Linked DNA regions of Homo sapiens: region 2 is linked to region 1. The links come from fine-mapping of genetic effects on gene expression. A gene starts in region 1. The other region holds a variant in brackets. All regions are shown on one strand. Distances are from middle to middle. Region 1 holds the start of LINC02762 (long intergenic non-protein coding RNA 2762). Region 2 overlaps LINC02763 (long intergenic non-protein coding RNA 2763).

The links. PIP is the estimated chance that this variant, and not a neighbour inherited with it, causes the effect.
Region 2: its variant is fine-mapped to the expression of LINC02762 in whole blood (TOPMed, PIP 0.98).

What each region holds. Positions count from the first base shown.
Region 1 is chr11:112,265,458-112,274,632 of GRCh38, forward strand. It overlaps LINC02762 (long intergenic non-protein coding RNA 2762), which reads left to right and starts at 5,292. Exons shown (of 4, transcript NR_126004.1): 1 at 5,292-5,326. It also overlaps the pseudogene ST13P10.
Region 2 is chr11:112,510,759-112,519,933 of GRCh38, forward strand. All of the region lies in intron 2 of LINC02763 (long intergenic non-protein coding RNA 2763), which reads left to right. Among named protein-coding and RNA genes, the nearest start is that of LINC02763, 33 kb to the left of the region's middle. The variant G/A (reference allele first, on the strand shown) is at 5,304.

The DNA of each region.
Region 1 (9,175 bases):
GGGATCACTAGTCTGAGGAGCCCTGGGGTTTTTGATGTGTCTCCTGGGCATGTCAGAGGTGTGACAGATGCAATATGGAGAACGTGAGAAAGGGCACAGATGTTAGAGTCCAAGAGGCCTCCATTGGAATCTTCCTCCTCACAGTGTAACCTTGGACTGTACTTAACCTACCTGAGCCTCAGTTTTCTTATCCATATTATGGAGAGACTCCGACCAACCTTGCAGGATTGTGTTAAGGTTTAAAAGAGGTAATGCATGTAACATGCATGCCACAGAGTCAACCCTCTAAGAGGAAGTTTTTACCACCGATGGCAAGTGTCTGTGTTAACTCGAGGGACAAGGGCGTCCAGGGAGCTGGGGGTAGCTGGAGAAGTTACTCTCATTTGTTGACCCACAATGGATGTTCAAGTCCACACATGTTGATTTATGAGCTAATTGGGTTGTGCCTCTGGCTCTTTGGTTCAGCATTGTGGGTGTTATGCTTTTGAATAGCCCAAAGTGAGAGTCCCCATGCTTTAGGGATAGCCCGTGGTCAGCTTTTGAGAAGATGCATACCATTCTTCTCATTCCCCGAGGACTTACAAATTCTCAGAGAGGGGGAACACGCTGCTATGTATTACATTAAGAATTTTCAAGCAGGACTGGCCCTAAGAGATAATTTTAATCTAACTCCCTTATTATGTCTGAGAAAACTGAGCACAGAAAAATTAAACAACTTGCCCCAGGCTTAAGAACTACTTAGTGACAAAGTCAGGGCCAGATCCCGGCCTCCTTCCCACCAGCTGGGGATTCTCTCCACTGGACAGCTTACTATCTAGGGAATACATGTGTGCTCTGCTTAGCATTTCAGATTCAGACATATTCCAGATACAGCACATGTTAATTTTAATATGCCGTGTGTATATTTTGTTGTACGTGTGGGACACGTGCCTCATCTACTTACATTTGATAGAACTTGGAGAGAAGTTTATCACAGCAATAGTTAGTTGCTCTATCTTTGCTCAAGACTTTTTGTTGATCATATTTGTGTCTTCGTTTAATCCAAAATTGCATGTTGAGAGCACAGCTGGATCTGCACTGTGCTTTACTTGTGTTGCCTCGTTGGCCTACCGTGGTCAGTGGACTGGGGTTGGCTGGTTGAGCTGCTCCAGGTCACATGGCCTTCTGGGAAAATAACCCCTGCTTTATAGCAATTATTGCCAAACTCCAGGCTGGCAATGATCTTGATCAACTGTTTACCTGTTTTCATGGAATGACAGAGATGAGGGCAAAATTATGACAGTTTTTATAAAGAAAGAAATGTTGATTTGGTTTAAAGCCTGCCTTTTATTTTGATGTTATAGCTTTCTGATGTTTTGTTGTTCTTTCTTTTATGAAACTATAGTCATTGTAGATTATAGATGGTAGATTTTCCCCTCCTTCACCTATTTATTTACTTATTTTTTTATGTTTGCCTCGCACTAATAAACTTCTATTTTGCTCAAATTAGAGCAGTAATCTTCCATACATAAGTATCTTCCCTGCCCAATAATTTAAAGAAAAAATCCAAAATGATTAGTAAAGAAAAATATAAGAATTAACCGTCCCTTTAAATTTGTTTTAAATATTTTTAAGGTTTAAAAAGGGTTTAAAGTTTGTAATTCCTAGTAGGAAAATATTATCTGAATGAATACCCTAATGGCAAACCATGGTAAATGCTTCAGCTGCATTTGGGGGAGAGGGATATGGATTATCTTCAAAGCACCCCTGAGGTACGCTGGTTTGTATTATTGCAACATCCATAAGGTGATCTAGGTTGCTTTTCCTTCAGCACGGTCTTTATCAGAAGGACATTACTCTTGACCTCCAAATTTGGCTGACAATTTACTGATAAGATTCATAACCTTTGGGTTGCCCTGGTATTGTGACATATTTGCTGGGTTTTGAGCCACATCCTGGAAGAGGCCACCATAACTTTGGGATCCTGCACGGCTGCAAGAACCTCTGGATCACTAAGAATTTCATTGAGTCCAGTTATTCCGGCCATCCCAGGCATGCCCCCTCTCATTCCAAGCATTCCCCCAGGAAGTCCATCTGGAAAAGAGCCATACTGAGCTACTGACTGTCGTCTGGCTTCTTCCTCCCTCTGGGCTCTCTCTTGCTCTTCTCGAGCCTTCTTAACTCTTTCTATTCTTTCTTTGATCTCTCGCTCTTCACGTTTTTGCTCATACTTTCTCTGATGTTCCGCAATGTCTGTGCCCTAGGCTGAACTTCTTTCAGCATTGCACTAGCATCTTCATCATAATCCAATTTACAGGCAAGGGCAAGATCATGGGCTGCTCCTTCCCAGTGGCCTAGAAGTCTGTGTGCTTTACCTCGCCACTTGTAAGGCTGAGCTGAAATAAATTTCAACGGCTCTGTCACAGTCTCGGATGGCAGCATTTGGCTTCTGTAATTTGATGAAGACACTGGCCCTCTTGGCATACAAAATGGCCAACTGAGGATTCAGCTTGATGGCATCTGTGAATAAGTCAATGGCTTTCTGCAGTTCACCATCATTTAGGGCTTCAATAGCAGCCACTTTCTTATGATTTGCCTGATCCATCATCTCCTCTGTTATCTCTGCATTTTCATCTCCCATTTCTTGAGGGGCATCAGGGTCTGGTTCAATCACATCTTCATTATCAATTAATAGATTACTTTCCTCACTTGATGGTTCGTCTGCCTTTAAGTCTTCCTCCACCTTCTTACTATCAGGTTTTTCTTCCTTGGTATTTTCTTCTGATTTAACTTTCTGAGTAGCAGGTGATAGTTTACCCCCCATGCTCTCCACCCACTCCCTCAGGAAGTGCATTTCCTTGGTGTGCAGAACGCTCAGATCCTGCTTACACATTTTCACAAAAGCCCGAAGTGCATTCACTTTGTGGGGGTCCATGGTCGGGAGGCGGTGGACGAAGCTGAGGGGCCGTGGCCCGGTTCCAGGCCTAGGCACTGGCTCAGTGTGACTGCGCAGAAGGGGGCACCTATTTATTTTTTAAATGTCCTTATTTAACAAAATGAAAACGTAGCACCTATCTAGGTGCCTAAAATCCAAAGTTTTGAAACCAGAGATCTAAAAAGATTTAGTTTGCATCGTAACTTCCAGAAATGCCTTGCATTACTGTGGCAAAAAGCAGGAATTGCTAGCATTTAAGTAGGAGTAGGGAGGTTACGTCTCAAGAAGGGTGTTCAAGGACCCCTTTCTCACTGAGTAGGAGGTCAGATCTTTTAAGCTTCTCTTCCCAACATTAGAATCAGTCATCCCCCCAAAATTGGACATTTATTTCAGTCACTTTTAGGGAGAGATCAGTGTTGAGGGCACTTAGTGGTAGAGTGAGAGCAGGGGTTGGTGGGTGAGAAAGTGAAACTGGACAAGAGAAGTTGGGACTCAGAGCTTCCCAGTCCCCAAACAGAAGAGGAACTGGGAAGGTATTTCCAGCTGCGGAAGAGGAAGGTTTGGACACTCTCTTTACATGGCTAGTGTGGCTTCTTCCTTTGAGAGGAAAGAATTCTCTGCTTGAGAGGAAACCCACTGCAGGAACCTGAAGAGAACTAAGCCCACCTAGGTCAGTAACTGGAAACAAGTGGCTCTTCCTCTGTCCTGCATAGCTACACTTAGAAATTTCATGGAAAGGTGTGACATTTTATCAAGACATTTGGCTGCATTGCTCCTGCTGTTTAACCAGAGGATTCAGCAGCAAACAAAATAAGACAAAACAAAACAAAAAAACCAGGACGGTTTAATGAGTGGGACATGAATTGGAACAGGCAGGATGAACTGTGGGTTCCTGTGGTGGTCTGACAAGGATGTGACGAGGACACCTTTCCAGGGGCAAAGTCAAGGCCATGTGCTCTCACAGGAAATTCCCTTCGGTTAAGTTCCTGAAGAGTGTATTGATTTTCTGATACCCTGCCTTATTCAGGTAGGACTTAAAGCAGCTTACAGGAAAACAAGATTTAAAATGTAAGAAGTTAAGGATATAGGGAAAAGAAAGGTAGAGCAGAATGATAAGAGAAAGGTGGGGTTTGTGATCGTGGGAATTTCCGTGCTGGCATCTCCGTGTTGGTTCTGTTGTTGCAGGTACTGGGAGGAGGAGATGAACCCTGCTCCTGTGGAGGCTATGAGGTATTGATGTCGTGTACACATCCAAGGGGTGGTCTAATTATTTACAACTAGGCTCCTGAAAATCAGCCCTGAATCCAGCTTTCTACCTTCTCTTTTCAATATCATTTAATTAATTGAGTCACAGAAACAGCCTTTAATTCATTTAATTCCCTTACATTCTTCTAACTTCTGCCATATATCTCGTGATCTGTGATTTTTCCTTTTGCACTGATTTGATACTATGTAGTAGCAACTAAATATCGTTACTTATACCATAGCAGCTAATCTTTCTTATCAACAAAAACAAATAATGTCCACATTCCTGAAAACAATTAGGCTCTATTTCTAGCCTTGTGAACAAATGCAATTTTGTCACTTACATAATTTGTTATTGATAGAGTAACTTCAGAATTATTTGTAGTACTGCTTCCTGAGACATATAAAATCATATTAATGATTTTTAATAGCAATCAATAATAACATTTATTAAATACCCACGGTGCTTCGAATCTTTCAGTTGGTCAGTCAGCATTTATGTTCTTAATATCACTCCCAAAGCGTCATATAAACAACTTCTTTTTTTTTTTTTTGAGAGGGAGTCTCACTCTGTCACCCAGGCTGCAGTGCAATGGCACAATCTCAGCTCACTGCAACCTCCGCCTCCTGGGTTCAAGCGATTCTCCTGCCTCAGCCTCCCGAGTAGGTGGGATTATAGGCACCTGCCACCACACCGGGCTAATTTTTGTATTTTTAGTAGAGACGGGTTTTCACCATGTTGGCCAGGCTCATCTCAAACTCCTGACCTCAGGTGATCCGCCCGCCTCAGCCTCCCAAAGTGCTGGGATTACAGGCGTGAGCCACTGCACCCAGCCCATAAAAACAACTTCTAACCTCAGGAAGCCTACACTCCAATGGGAAACCAAGGGTGACCCCAGACCAATTTATGCGACTGCTTTATTTCCTTATCCACAAAGTGGGGAGAATGACAGTGCCCATCTCATAAGGCTGTTGGGAACTTTTAACGACATAATACTTGTGGAGCGTGATGGCTGGCATAGAGAAAGCACTGGATAACTGCTTGTTTTCCTTCTTCTTGTTATGATTGGAGAGATTCCGCGGAGGTGGTGCCTGGGAGCTGGCCACACCTCCCCCAGAGGGAATTTCCGAGTTTCACAGGTTTCTCTCCCTTCTGAGCAACGGCAGGTGAGTCAGGGTCGCTTGTGCTCCCCTCCAGCTCTGGGATGTATGCTGTCCAGCTGGTTACGAGTCTCCATGGCATCCGAGGAAAAGTGGAGCTGGCTGAAGGGAGGTGGAAAAGAAGGGCAACAAATTCCAGTTTCTTGTGAAACTTTGTAAACGTAAGGCTCTTATCTCAGTCTGCAGAGCAGAAACAGGGTGAGGGCCATGGATCTGAATGTCTCCACCTGTGCATAAAACATATGATTAGAGCTGAAGACCTAGAAGTCCCTTCCCCAGGCAGGGCATGAACTCTTCTGTTTCTAGAACCATTTAGGGAGGTGACAACTTGGCTTCGTCCCAGAGATTCAGGTGAGGACAGAACAGAGGGCAGGGTGTTCTTGCCCTGAGTTCCCCGCTAATGAGCTAATCCTGGCCCTTCACCTTTGTTTGGCATGAAGTTTACCAGAAAAGGGCATCCTGCCTTTATCCTTGGTTCTCTATACCCTCGCTACTTTTCCTGTGTTTTGTAAACACGGGATGGTGTATTTAGCTTTCTTTTGCTGGAATTATTTTCACCCCATGTCCTGTGTCTTCCTTGTCCAGAAGAAATCATCTTCTAGCCTAAGAGCTCCAGAGAAGGGTGTGCAGGGGACGGCCATGTTCTGATGCATGCATTCAGCTGTGTCGAACAGTCTTCCTGTTTTGCTACTGTCTGAGAATATTCTTTTCATTCTGTGGGCTCCTGGGCCTGGGCTTTCCTTGGCTTATCTCAGGAATCTGCCTCTTGGTCCCTTTCATTGGCTGCCTTCTATGTTTAGGTTTGTAGGGGAAGGCCCCTGGAAGGTGGGTGGGAGAAGAGGCACCTCTCAGGAGAGGCTGAGGCGCAAAGATGCTCTTGTCCACTCAAGTCCATATTTATTTATCTTCTAATATACTTTGTTTGTTAGTTTGTATGCTTGTTTGTTTTGAGGGTCTCCTTCTGTTACCCAGCCTAGAGTGCAGTGGTGCCATCATGGCTCACTGCAACCTCAATCTCCGAGCTCAATTGATCCGCTTGCCTCAGCCTCCTGAGTAGCCAGGACTACAGGTGAATGCCACCATGCCTGGCTAATTTTTTTTTTTTTTTTTTGTAGAGGGTTTTTTCCTGTTGCCCAGGCTGGTCTCAAACTCCTGGTCCCAAGTGATCCGCCTGCCTTAGCCTCCCAAAATGCTGGGATCACAGATGTGAGCCACCCTGCCTGGCCTTCTAATATAATTTGGATATTCCATGGATATTCCCACCTTGATCTACATTAGGAACTTCCTGGAGGCTTGTGCTCAAGAGAGGTAGTATCTGCTTGCTCAGCAAGCAGAGGCTGAGTAAGTGCAGGACTCTGAATATGGTTGTGCAGCAGAGTTGTGGGTATTTGTGGGGACGTTGACCTCAGGCCCAGCATTTAGATTTAGCTAGCAGACATGCCTGGGCAGCTAAACTGGCAATGTCAGACCAAACTGCCTGGCCTGATATTGCCAGGCAGTTTAGCGTATCAGGGCTCTGCTTAGAAGCCACAATGCCAAGGCCTCATGACCATATTCTTCCACCCTTGAGAATCTTGTCCACCTTCATATCCCTCCATTCCTCACGCATCATGTCCTGGGTGGGTGCCCTGACACCTCATTCTCACCTCCATCTCCTTGCTCACTCATGTTTTCCAGGTTGTACTTGAGAGAGCCTAGGCCTTAGCGGTAGAGTTGGTTTCAAGTTGCTGCCCTCCCATCCCCTGGAATGTAACTGGCTTTCTGGGACTTAGTTTTTTTCATTTGTAATGCCTGCCTTGTAGTCCCATTGTGAAAATTAATCAATAATTTGTTTTGAGGGTCCAATATGTGGCAGGCATTGTGGTAAGCTTTAGGGCAGGGGCATAAAGACCAGTTAAGATTTCTCCTTTTTAAAACTTTTATTTTTTTGTAGAGATGGAGTCTTGCTATGTTGCCCAGGCTGATCTTGAACTCTTGGCCTCAAGTAATCCTCCTACCTGGGCCTCCCAAAGGAATTACAGAATGAGCCACCATGCCTGGCTTATCCCTCTTTTTGAATAGCTTTTGGTTAGTGTTAAGAGGCAGGTTCATAAACATAATTTCAAAATAATGCGTAAATGCTAAGATAGAGGTAAGCCTTAGGAGTACAAAAGAAGGGAAAGAATGCTTTTTGGGTAAATGGTGGATGAGCTGGTTTTCTTTCTCTTTCTTTCTTTCTTTCTTTCTTTCTTTCTTTCTTTCTTTCTTTCTTTCTTTCTTTCCTTCTTCCTTCCTTCCTTCCTTCCTTCCTTCCTTCCTTCCTTCCTTCCTTTCTTTCCTTCCTTCCTTCCTTCCCCCCTCTCTCTCTCTCTTTCTTTCTTTCTTCTCTCTCTCTCTCTCTGGAGTTCAGTGGCGTGAATCATAGTTCACTGCAGTCTTAAACTTCTGGCCTCAAGCAATCCTCCTGCCTCAGCCTCCCAAAGCACTGAGATTACAGGTGTGAGTCACTGCAGCCATCCTGGATGAACTGTTTTGAAGGATAGGGGTAGGTTGGGGTGAATGTTCCTGGAAGAGAGAAGTGTGGAATTACAAAACAGTGTGATGTGAGCAGGGAACAATGAAAAGGTAATGTTCAAGAAAAAGAGTGACAGATGCTGTTGCTGGCAAGTAAATAGGGGCCAAGTCATGCTAGGTCTTATAGGTCATGCTAAGCATTTTGAATTCTATCTGTAGGCAACAGAGTTTTATTTTTATTTGTTTATTATTTTTATTTTTTTCACCCGGAGGTGAAACAATTTTATTTCACAGTTGCCTTTAAAACCTCAAAGATACTATTTTCTTCATATAAAAATATTAGTACTGGGGGGAGAGGCCAAGATGGCCAACTAGAAACATCTGTGGTCAGAGGCTCCCACTGGGAGGAACCAAAATGGCAAGTGAATCCTGCACCAGCAACCAGGGTATCCAGGTTCTCTCACTGGGACTGACTAAGCAGTTGATGTGACCCATGAAGAGTGAAGAAAAGCCGGGTGGTGCGACGGCCCACCTGGGAGCCACACGGGGAAAGGGCAGCTCCCACCCCAAGCCAAGGGAGGTGGTTAGTGATCATGCTACCCTGCTAGAAAACCGTACTTTTTCCACGGATCTGCGCAACCCACAGATCAGGAGATCCCACTTTTGAGCTACACTACCAGGGCCTTGGGTCCCAAGCACAGAGCTGTGCAGATTCTCAGCAGCCACTTGACTGGAGACTGCCTAAGACCCCAGTCAAGTGGCTGCTGAGAATCTGCACAGCTCTGTTAAGTTAACTCTGCACAGCTTTGTTAACAGCTCTGTTCTGTTAACTCTGCTAAGAGTTTCCAGGGGGGTGGGGGCAGCCATTATCACTGCAGCTGCCTGCTGCCTAAGATGACTGAGCTCCCCTGAGTTGGGGTGGTGGCCATCATTGCAGCTCATGTCTGCCATTTTTCCCCTGGTGGTTTCATCTAAGCTCATAAGGGAAAGGAATGAGTGGAAGATGTAGGGGAGCTCACTCAGCAGTGGAAGTTTTAAGTGGCAGAGAGGGAAGGTTTGCGATGGAGAGAATAGTGAGAACGGGAGGAGGAGGTTGGAGGAATGTTCTGTGGAGGACAAATGGTGAGACGGGCTTTCTCTGAGGACAATGGTTGTGGTGTGACTAGACTGGCTGGTCCCAAGGGTCCAAAGGGAAGCCACTAGCCTATTAGGGCTGGGCTGGAGCGTACAGGTTCTGGATCTGTAGGTCAGAGGTGGGGGGGTCCAGGAACATGCATTTTTTTTTTTTTGAGATAAGGTTACACTCTATGGCTCAGGATGGAGTGCGGTGATGCAATCACAGCTCACTGCATCCTCGACCTC
Region 2 (9,175 bases), 250 kb after region 1:
AATTAACAGAAATGTCTGAGTATTTTGGTGTCCTAGATTTTAGCTTCTAAGACATCAAAGGCAGAAGTGGTGTGGCTGTAGCTTCTAGGTTCTCGGCTTCCTAGGTGATATGCCTTTGCATCACGGTCAGATCCGTCTATCTTGGCAATTCTGCCTGCATCACCCGAGTGCCGCCTCCTCAAGGATGAGGGCATGAGGCCATTAACACTGCCATGGGGAAATCTGAGGTAGACTTGAACCACTTTGTCAGAGTTTAGTAAATCTCTGCCTAATCAAGTTCACTTTCCAGATATTTCTTGTTTTGCTGACTCCCAGCATTGTATCCTGGCCAGCCAATAATCTTATGGCCCAAATTCCTGAGATAAACCTGAGGGATATCCAATTCAAAGCCCCGAGAGTTCCTAGCATAGAAGAATTCCCAGCTACTATGTCCTGCTTACAGCCTAGTGGAAGTGTTTCTGTTGTAAGAATCAGAGGCCCTGAGAGGCCAGGGAATTCAGGTGTGTAGACTGAGGAGATGTTATCTTTCTCCTTGACTTGGCTAGAGAGCCAGGGAGTCATTTTTCCTTACCTCTCCTCAGCCCATCTTTGGAGAGTTAATCTCCTGAAGTAGTAGCTCAGGTTTCTTTTAGATACTCTTGGATTACCTTCTACTTGATGGGTGTGGGGTGGCTGGATCTAGCAGGCAGAATCTGGCCACCCACTTGGCATTACTCATTCCAACCTGCAGGATCCCTTGTTCACATGAAAACCAAGTCCTCTCTGAATCACCACCTGACATAAACAGGCTCCAGCTAGAGCCTTGTATGTTGAAAAATATCTTCATAAAAATATTGCTAAATTCATTTTAGTGGATTCCTGAAATGCCCCAAAAGGACGGGCCCTTCTCTGGACTCCTATCCTCTCTGTGTTGAAGTTGTCCACACACTCCCCATCTACCACAGGAAACTCTCTGAGCAGCTGAGGGCAAGGCTGGCTTTCTTGACAGTTGTTTTGCCACTGCTCTGTTGCTGTATGTCACAGAGGAGGCTCACAGTAAGCATCTGAAGAGGGAATGAATGAATGGATGAGGAAGTGAGATAAAGGACAAAACGTGTCCTTCTGTATCTGATGGGTTCCCATTAGATGAGGAGCCAATCTAATCTATCTATGTAGCTCCCAATTGAAGACCATGACCCAGGAAATGGATGTTGTGGGCAGAGTTGCTCTCAGTATAAGGAAAACCTTTCTCAGTTTTAGAACTGCTGCCTTAGGGAGTAGGGGAGCTCATTTTTTTTTGTGCTCAAACAAAAGCTGGACCTCTGTCTGGAGGAATGAATCAGATTACTGGTGAAGAGCTGGATGACTTTTGGATCTCTTCCAATTCTGAGGTGATCCAGCTGTCATTGGGGTAGCTGTTTTTCCAAACCAACCGTGAAATAGATGCAACTCTCCTCACACATTTCCATCACCAGGTATTTGGGAAATAATTAATTATTTTTTGAGGCAGAATCTCATTGATCTATCATCCAGGCTAGAGTGCAGTGGGACAATTTAGCCTCACTGCAAACTCTGCCTCCCAAGTTCAAGCAATTCTCCTGCCTCAGCCTCCCAAGTAGCTGGGATTATAGGTGTATGCCACCATGCCTGGCTAATTTTTTGTATTTTCAGTAGAGACAAAGTTTCACCATGCTGGCCAGGCTGGTCTCAAACTCCTGACCTCAAGTAATCTGCCTACCTTGGCTTCCCAAAGTGATGGAATTTCAGGCATGAGCCACCGTGCCCGGATGAAAATTTAGATTGGACTTAAGACCTTGTAGTGAAAACTGGGGAAGGCAGCAGCTGCTCTGTCCCCCATGTCTCCCTGGGATGTATCTCCCAGTCTCCCTCATTGGATACCAGCCTCTGGCCTCTTCTTTGTTTCTCCAGCTCTGTGTCTCCCCATGTTCTCATGCCGGGATCTCACCCCTTTGCTCAAGATGTCTCTACTATTCTTCCCTGAGTACAGCCATTGGACTTCTGGGATCCTCTCATCTTGTACTCTCATGCCCATCATCTCTGCTTCCACCCACACCATTAGCCAATGAGGAAGCCTATGCCACCAGGAGCCATCCCTGTGGAAAGTGGTTTATGTGTTTAAGGACATGGAGTTTCCTTTAGAATCTTTGTTGACAAACATTTTCAAATTCAAAGGAGATAGGCGAGAGAAAGCAAGAAAACAAGTGAGCACATTTATCTTTCTCATTTAGAAGAGCCTAGAACCTCCTTTCCTTCCAGCCCCACAACCTCCACTCCACCCAGAAGAGGAAACAGGCACCATTTGATGTTGGTGAGGTCATGGAGGGTGGCGAACGGTGAAGCTTAGTATTCCCCAAGAAATAGGGTCACCATCCTCAGGAAAGCCTTCCCTAGCCCCTAAGATTAAGGGAGCAGCCCCCTCCTTCCATGGCTCCATATGCCTTGCCTTATTATACCACAGCTGTGGCTTTATATTTATTTGTGAATTTATTTGATTATTTTCAGGATTTTCCATAATGTTTTAAGCTCCATCTCTGTGTCTCTCCCCATGTTGTCATACTGGGGGCTGTGTCTGTTTGGAGTCGTTACTGAATCCACATAGGGCCTAGCAGAAGTTCTGGGCTAGGAGTAAGTGCTCAATTAATATTCGTTAAATGAATGACTGAATATGTGGAAATAAAAATATAATTTCTAAAAATATGGACAGGCAGTCTTTGGCATGAAGTTAATCCTCACGGTTGTGTTTGCTCAGGTACTTGAAGGGAAACCAGATGAAGCCAGATGAGAGCACCCACCACCCCAGCCTCACTGCCTTTCACTTCCAGGAACTAGAACTCACCCTCCCATTTCTCAGTCAAGCCTGCAGATGCTGAGACCAGAGCTCAACCCTCACCTTTAGGGGGCCTGCCAAACAGAAAGAGAAAGTCTTTGGTATGCCTGTGGGGCCAAAGGACAGAGACGTCTTCATTTTATAGGGAAGGTGCTTAGACAGTTGGAAAGGGGGAAATGGTTAGGAAAAGTGGTGTAAAGTAAGGGCTTAAAGGGAGAAGACTGGGGAGGAAAGAGAAGCAGGAGGCATAGGGAATGAGGAGTTTCCATGAGGGTTTTCTTCCAGAAGCCCAGGTGGGAAAATTTGCTCTTTGTTTAGTGCAAGGGTTCAAGGTGGCCAGACCAGAGACCAGCACTGATGAGCATGAGTTCTCTGCTTGCTGAGTGACAGAAGAGAAGGGAAAGGGAGGAGAAAAGAAGATCAAAGTCAAGTGCAGAAGGAAAATTGCAGGTAGGCCAGGTTCACTCATCAGCTTATTTGCATCTAATATGAGCACTGGGATGACAGAAAATGATGCCTACAATTTCAGGGCAATTACATCCAACTACCACATTCTCTCCTTCCCCTTCCCCCGTGCTGCCTCCAGCCCCAACTGCGCGGTTCTACTGTAGACCTTGAAGGATGGCAAGGAAGAAACAATGGTGCCAGTGGGTCCCTGGAGAGAGGGGACTGCAGGAGATCCATGGGGAGGGGCTGCAGTAACTGAGACTCTATGCCCATCTCCACCAGCTTGCCTGCCCACTGCCAAACTGCCTATTGCCATGTTTTTGTTTCTTGTTTATCTGACAGGATCACATACATACATATAGTTCCTTGTATACCCAATTCATTGGGTGGAGTACTTTGATTTGTAGCTTAACCCTGCCCTGTACTTAAAAGGTCTGGGTCCCAGAGCCCCGTGGCTGTCTCACATGGTTCCCTAGCAACCAAATGAGACAGCGAAATGTGCAGTTTCATCACCACAAGATGTTAGGTCAATTAATATTCATTAGCAGTGCCTGTGTTTGGCTGCTAGGAGACATTGTGGGGAAAAAAAAATCTTTGTTGCTTGAGTGGGGGATGGAAGGAGTGAAGAGACCAATGAATATGTATATTATGTACTGAAGATGTGTTTTCTTAGACTAGTACACTGGCCTGTCTGCACATGTGCATGCAAGATTTTAAAAGATTAATCTTTGTATTTACAATTATCCTTCTAAGTTTATTATATGGAAATAGATTACAGAAACAATAGGAAAGTTGTACCCCAAAATATTTATCATGGCTCATTCAGGACACCTAAAATTGTACAATTCATAGTGATTTTATTTATTCTATAATTTTTTTTCTTATTCCATTGTATGCTCCAGGTGGGAAACTTGGATGCTTGAATAATACATAAAAGAAGCATAGGAGGAAAAAAATTCAGAAATTTCCTGTGTACTCATCATGTAAAGATAACAGCTTTTAACGTGTTGTTGTATGCCCTTTTAGTGTTCTTTTCATTCCAGAGAACACACACACAGTCACATACGGTTTTACAAAAATATCATTTTATATGTACTGTCTTATAGACTACATTTTATAATGTGGCATTGTCATTACGAACATTTTCTTGTGTCTAACATCATTTTTATTAGTCACATAATATTTCAGTGATTGTATTTCCTATGGTTCATTTAACCAAACTCCAATTTTTATTCACGCATTTAGGATGTTTACTTTTTTTGCTATTAATAATGTTGGAATGAGTATCCTTGTACATTCATCTTTCAGTCCTTGTCCAATTATTTCCTTAGAGCAAACTCCTAGAAGCAGAATTACCCACTTAAAGGTCTTTCACATGCTGCGTCGTGTTTTCTTTCAGAGAGAACAGAACAATTTCCATTTGTACCAATAGCGAATGAAGGTACCCTATGATCTTCTTTATAAATAAGACTGGAAAAGATCATGAAGTTCCCAATGTCCAATATCTGAGTTTTATCAGAGACTTCCCTTAATGAGGCTAAAACGAGAGCCCTGGCTCCCTTTGATGGGGAGGGCACATATTCTCAAAGAGGGGAATCTGGGCTGCAGAAGACTTATGATTTTGACTTGACCCAGCTAAGTATTTTCAGGAAATTTGTCCTCCATAGCCCCAAAGTGCAGCGTGAAACCAGCCAGCATCCAGGTGCTCCCTGCAGTGAGAGTGTACACCACTGGCCTCCAGACTCTTGCCCATCCTGTGTTCCCGATGTTTCTGCCCACCCCCCTCCCCTGCCCACAGATCTAGTTTTAGTCTCATGGCTCTGGTTGCCCCAAGCCCCAGCTCCAGGAAGATGACAGAGGGATCAGGCAAGCCCTGAGGTGAGTGGTAAGCTTGTCTCTGGGAAAGAGAGAGGACAGGTCTCAGTTCCCTTGGGAGTCCTGAGGAGGAAGACAATGTAGTATCAGCAAAGGCCAGGGGCACCTGTGACCTGAGAAACAGGTGACTAGAAAACCAAACCAAACTGCTCCA[G/A]ATTAGGGCAGTCCTTCCAGTTCTGTTCTAATTAAGAACAGTTTCCTTTGTACTCCTAGAAAACAGAACCCCCCCCACCCTCAAGCTAGGTGGGACAGGAGGTGGGGCAGAAGAGTGAAAACAGAAGGCCTATTTGGCCCCCTTTCCTGGATTCTGTTTAAAAATAGGTTCTGGTCATGGATGACCAAGGACCATGAGCTGAACTTCCCAATCAATGGAACCAACACAGACACTTGTGCCCACTGGGCCAGGCTGGGCAAAAGAGCCCACTCCAGAAAAAATTAGTGGGCCTTGATGGGAGAAATGGGACAGAATAGGGCAGTGGTTATTTATTGAGGTGTGTGTGGACCAGCAGCAGCTGCATCATCTGGGAGCTCATCAGAAATGCAACTGCATGGGCCCCACCCAAACTGCTGAATTGGAATCTCAAAGGATGAGGCCTGGAATGTGTGATTCACCACGTTCTCTATGAAGCACTTGGGGACAGGAGTTCTTTGCAGAACATGGGGACAGGAGTTTTCAGTCTTGGCTTTTTCTGCCATCCCGTGAGATACCAAGCAAGCCTCTTTGTCTCTCTTGGCTTTATGTAAGGATAAGTAGACTTGATACTTTTTCCTTCAACTCTCTCCTTGTTAGTATAAACATCTAAATAAGGTATGCATGTGTGTGTACATGTATGCATGTGTGTATGTGTGTTTGTGTGTCTGTGTATGCATGCACATGTGTGTCTGTATATGTGCATATATGTGTGTGTACGTGTTGTGTGTGTGGTTAGTTTACTCTGGTTCTTCTTTTCCCTTCACCTTCCATTCCCATGAGATGATAAAGAAAGCTTATTGGAAACAAAAACTCAGAGTCAAAACCAACCAATGATGTTTACTGTGAAGTCATCTGAGAAACAGGATGTTGAGGTTCTCTAAGGAGCTGCTTCGCAGCTCCTAGCAGAATAGTGGGTTCTCCTGTAGAAGCAGGACACAGGTCCTTACAGACAGAAGCACAAATAAAATACCAGTTGGATTAGAGGTGATTTAAATTTATGGCTTTCCATCAACTTTATCACTTTAGAAAATGCTCATTCCAATTGAACTATGTTTTCTTTTCTCTTAAAATTAACTGGTTGAGCTTAAGTTTCAATGAAACATTGCTATCCAAGTTTTAAGGGCTATTAAGGGTTCATCACATTAGTGAGGTCCATTTGTTTTAGGGTATACTCTGGAGCCAATGTGTCTGGGTTTGAGTATAGGCTCTAACAGTTATAAGTGAGTAACCTTGGGCAAGTCACTTAACCTCTCTGTGCCTCAGTTTTTTTCACCTACAAAATGGAAATAATAGTGACTAGCACAAAGTATTGTGAGGATTACGTGGATTAATATATGTGAAGTACTTTATAATAAACAAAAAAGCAAAGTACTGGTATGAAAACAGACACATAGACCAATGAAACAGAATAGAGAACTCAAATAAAGCTGTACACCTAGAAACATCTGATCTTTGACAAAGTCAACAAAAATAAGCAATGGAAAAAAGACTCCCTATTTAATAAATGGTGTTGGGACAACTAGCTAGCCCTATGCAGAAGAATGAAACTGGACACCTTCCTTTCTTTATATACAAAAGTTCACTCAAGATGAATTAAAGATTTAAATTTAAGACCTCAGGGCCGGGCACAGTGGCTCAGGCCTGTAATCCCAGCACTTTAGGAGGCCGAGGTGGGTGGATCACCTGAGGTCAGGAGTTCAAGACCAGCCTGGTCAACATGGTGAAACTCCATCTCTACTAAAAATACAAAACTTAGCTGGGCATGATGGTGTGTGCTTGTAATCCCAGCACTTCGGGAGGCTGAGATGGGTGGATCACCTGAGGGTCAGGAGTTCGAGACCAGCCTGGCCAACATGGTGAAACCCCGTCACTACTAAAAACACAAAAATTAGCTGTGTGTGGTGGCATGGAGCTGTAATCCCAGCTACTCAGGAGGCTGAGGCAGGAGAATTGCTTGGACCTGGGAGATGGAGGTTGCAGTGAGCCAAGATCATGCCATTGCATTCCAGCCTGGGAGATAAGGCTCCATCTCAAAAATGAATAAAAAATAAATACAAAATTAAAAAATTAAATGTCAGACCTCAAAGTATAAAAATCCTAGGGAATATCATTTTGGACATTAGCCTTGGCAAAGAATTTATGACTAAGTCTTCAAAAGCAATTGAAAAGTGGAACCTAAGTTAGCTAAAGAGCATCTGCACAGCAAAAGAAACTATCAGCAAACAGGCAACCCACAGAATGGGAGAAAATATTTGCAAACTATGCATCAACAAAGGTCTAACATTAAGAATCTACAAGGAACTCAACATGCCAAAAAAAAAAAAAAAAACCCATTAAAAAGTGAGCAAAGAATATGGATAGACACCTCTCAAAAGAAGACATGCAAGCAGCCAACAAACATGAAAAAAAAATGCTCAGCATCACTAATCATCAGAGAAATGCAAATCAAAACCACAATGAGATACCATCTCACACTAGTCAGAATGCTATTATTAAAAAGACAAAAAACAACAGATGCTGGTGAGGCTGTGGATAAAAGGGAATGCTTATACACTGCTGGTGGGAATATAAATTAGTTCAGATCCTGTGGAAAGTGATTTGGTGATTCCTCAAAGAACTTAAAAGAGAACTACCATTCGGCCCAGAAATGTTATTAGTGGGTATATACCCAAAGCAAAATAAATCATTCTAACAAAAAACACCTACACGAGCATGTTCATTGCAGCACTGTTCACAATAGCAAAGACATGGAATCAACCCATCAATGGTGGACTGGATAAAGAAAATGCAGTATATATACATGGAATACTATGCAGCCATAACAAAGAATGTAATCATATCCTTTGCAGCAACATGAATGGAGCTGGTGGCAAAATCCAAAGTGAATTAATGCAGGAACAGAAAAATAAATACCAGATGTTCTCACTTACAAGCAGGAGCTAAAGATTGGGTACACATAGAAATAAAAATGGGGGCCGGGTGCGGTGGCTCATGCCTGTAATTCCAGCACTTTGGGAGGCCCAGGCAGGCGAATCACCTGAGGTCAGGAGTTCAAGACCAGCCTGGCCAACATGGTGAAACCCCGTCTCTACTAAAAATACAAAAATTAACTTGGCGTGGTGGTGGCTGCCTGTAATCCCAGCTACTCGGGAGGCTGAGGCAGGAGAATTGCTTGAACCCGGGAGGCGGAGGTTGCAGTGAGCCAAGGTCACACCATTGCACTCCAGCCTGGACGACAAGAGTGAAACTCCATCTAAAAAAAACCAAACAAAGAAATAAAAATGGGAACAATAGACACTGGGGACTATTAGAGGGGTGATATGATTTGGCTTGGTGTCCCCACCCAAGTCACATCTTGAATGGCAATCCCCACCTGTTGAAGGAGGGACCTGTAATCCAAACGCGTGAAGGGAGGCAGGTGATTGGATTATGGGGGCGGTTTCCCCCATGCTGTTCTTGTAATGAGTGAGGTTTTTTTGTTTGTATGGTTTTTTGTTTGTTTGTCTTGAGATGGAGTCTCACTCTGTTACCCAGGCTGGAGTGCAGTGGCACGATCTCGGCTCACTGCAGCCTCTGCCTCCCAGGTTCAAGCAATTCTCCTGTCTCATTCTCCCAAGTAGCTGGGACTACAGGTGCCTGCTACCACGCCTGGGTTAACATTTGTATTTTTAGTAGGGGGGCGGGTTTTACCTTGTTGGCCAGGCTGGTCTTGAACTCCTGACCTCAGGTGATCCAACCCCCTTGGCCTCCCAAAGTGTTGGAATTACAGGCATGAGCCACCGCGCCCGGCCCCTGAGTGAGTTTTCACAAGATCTGATGGTTATAGAAGTGGT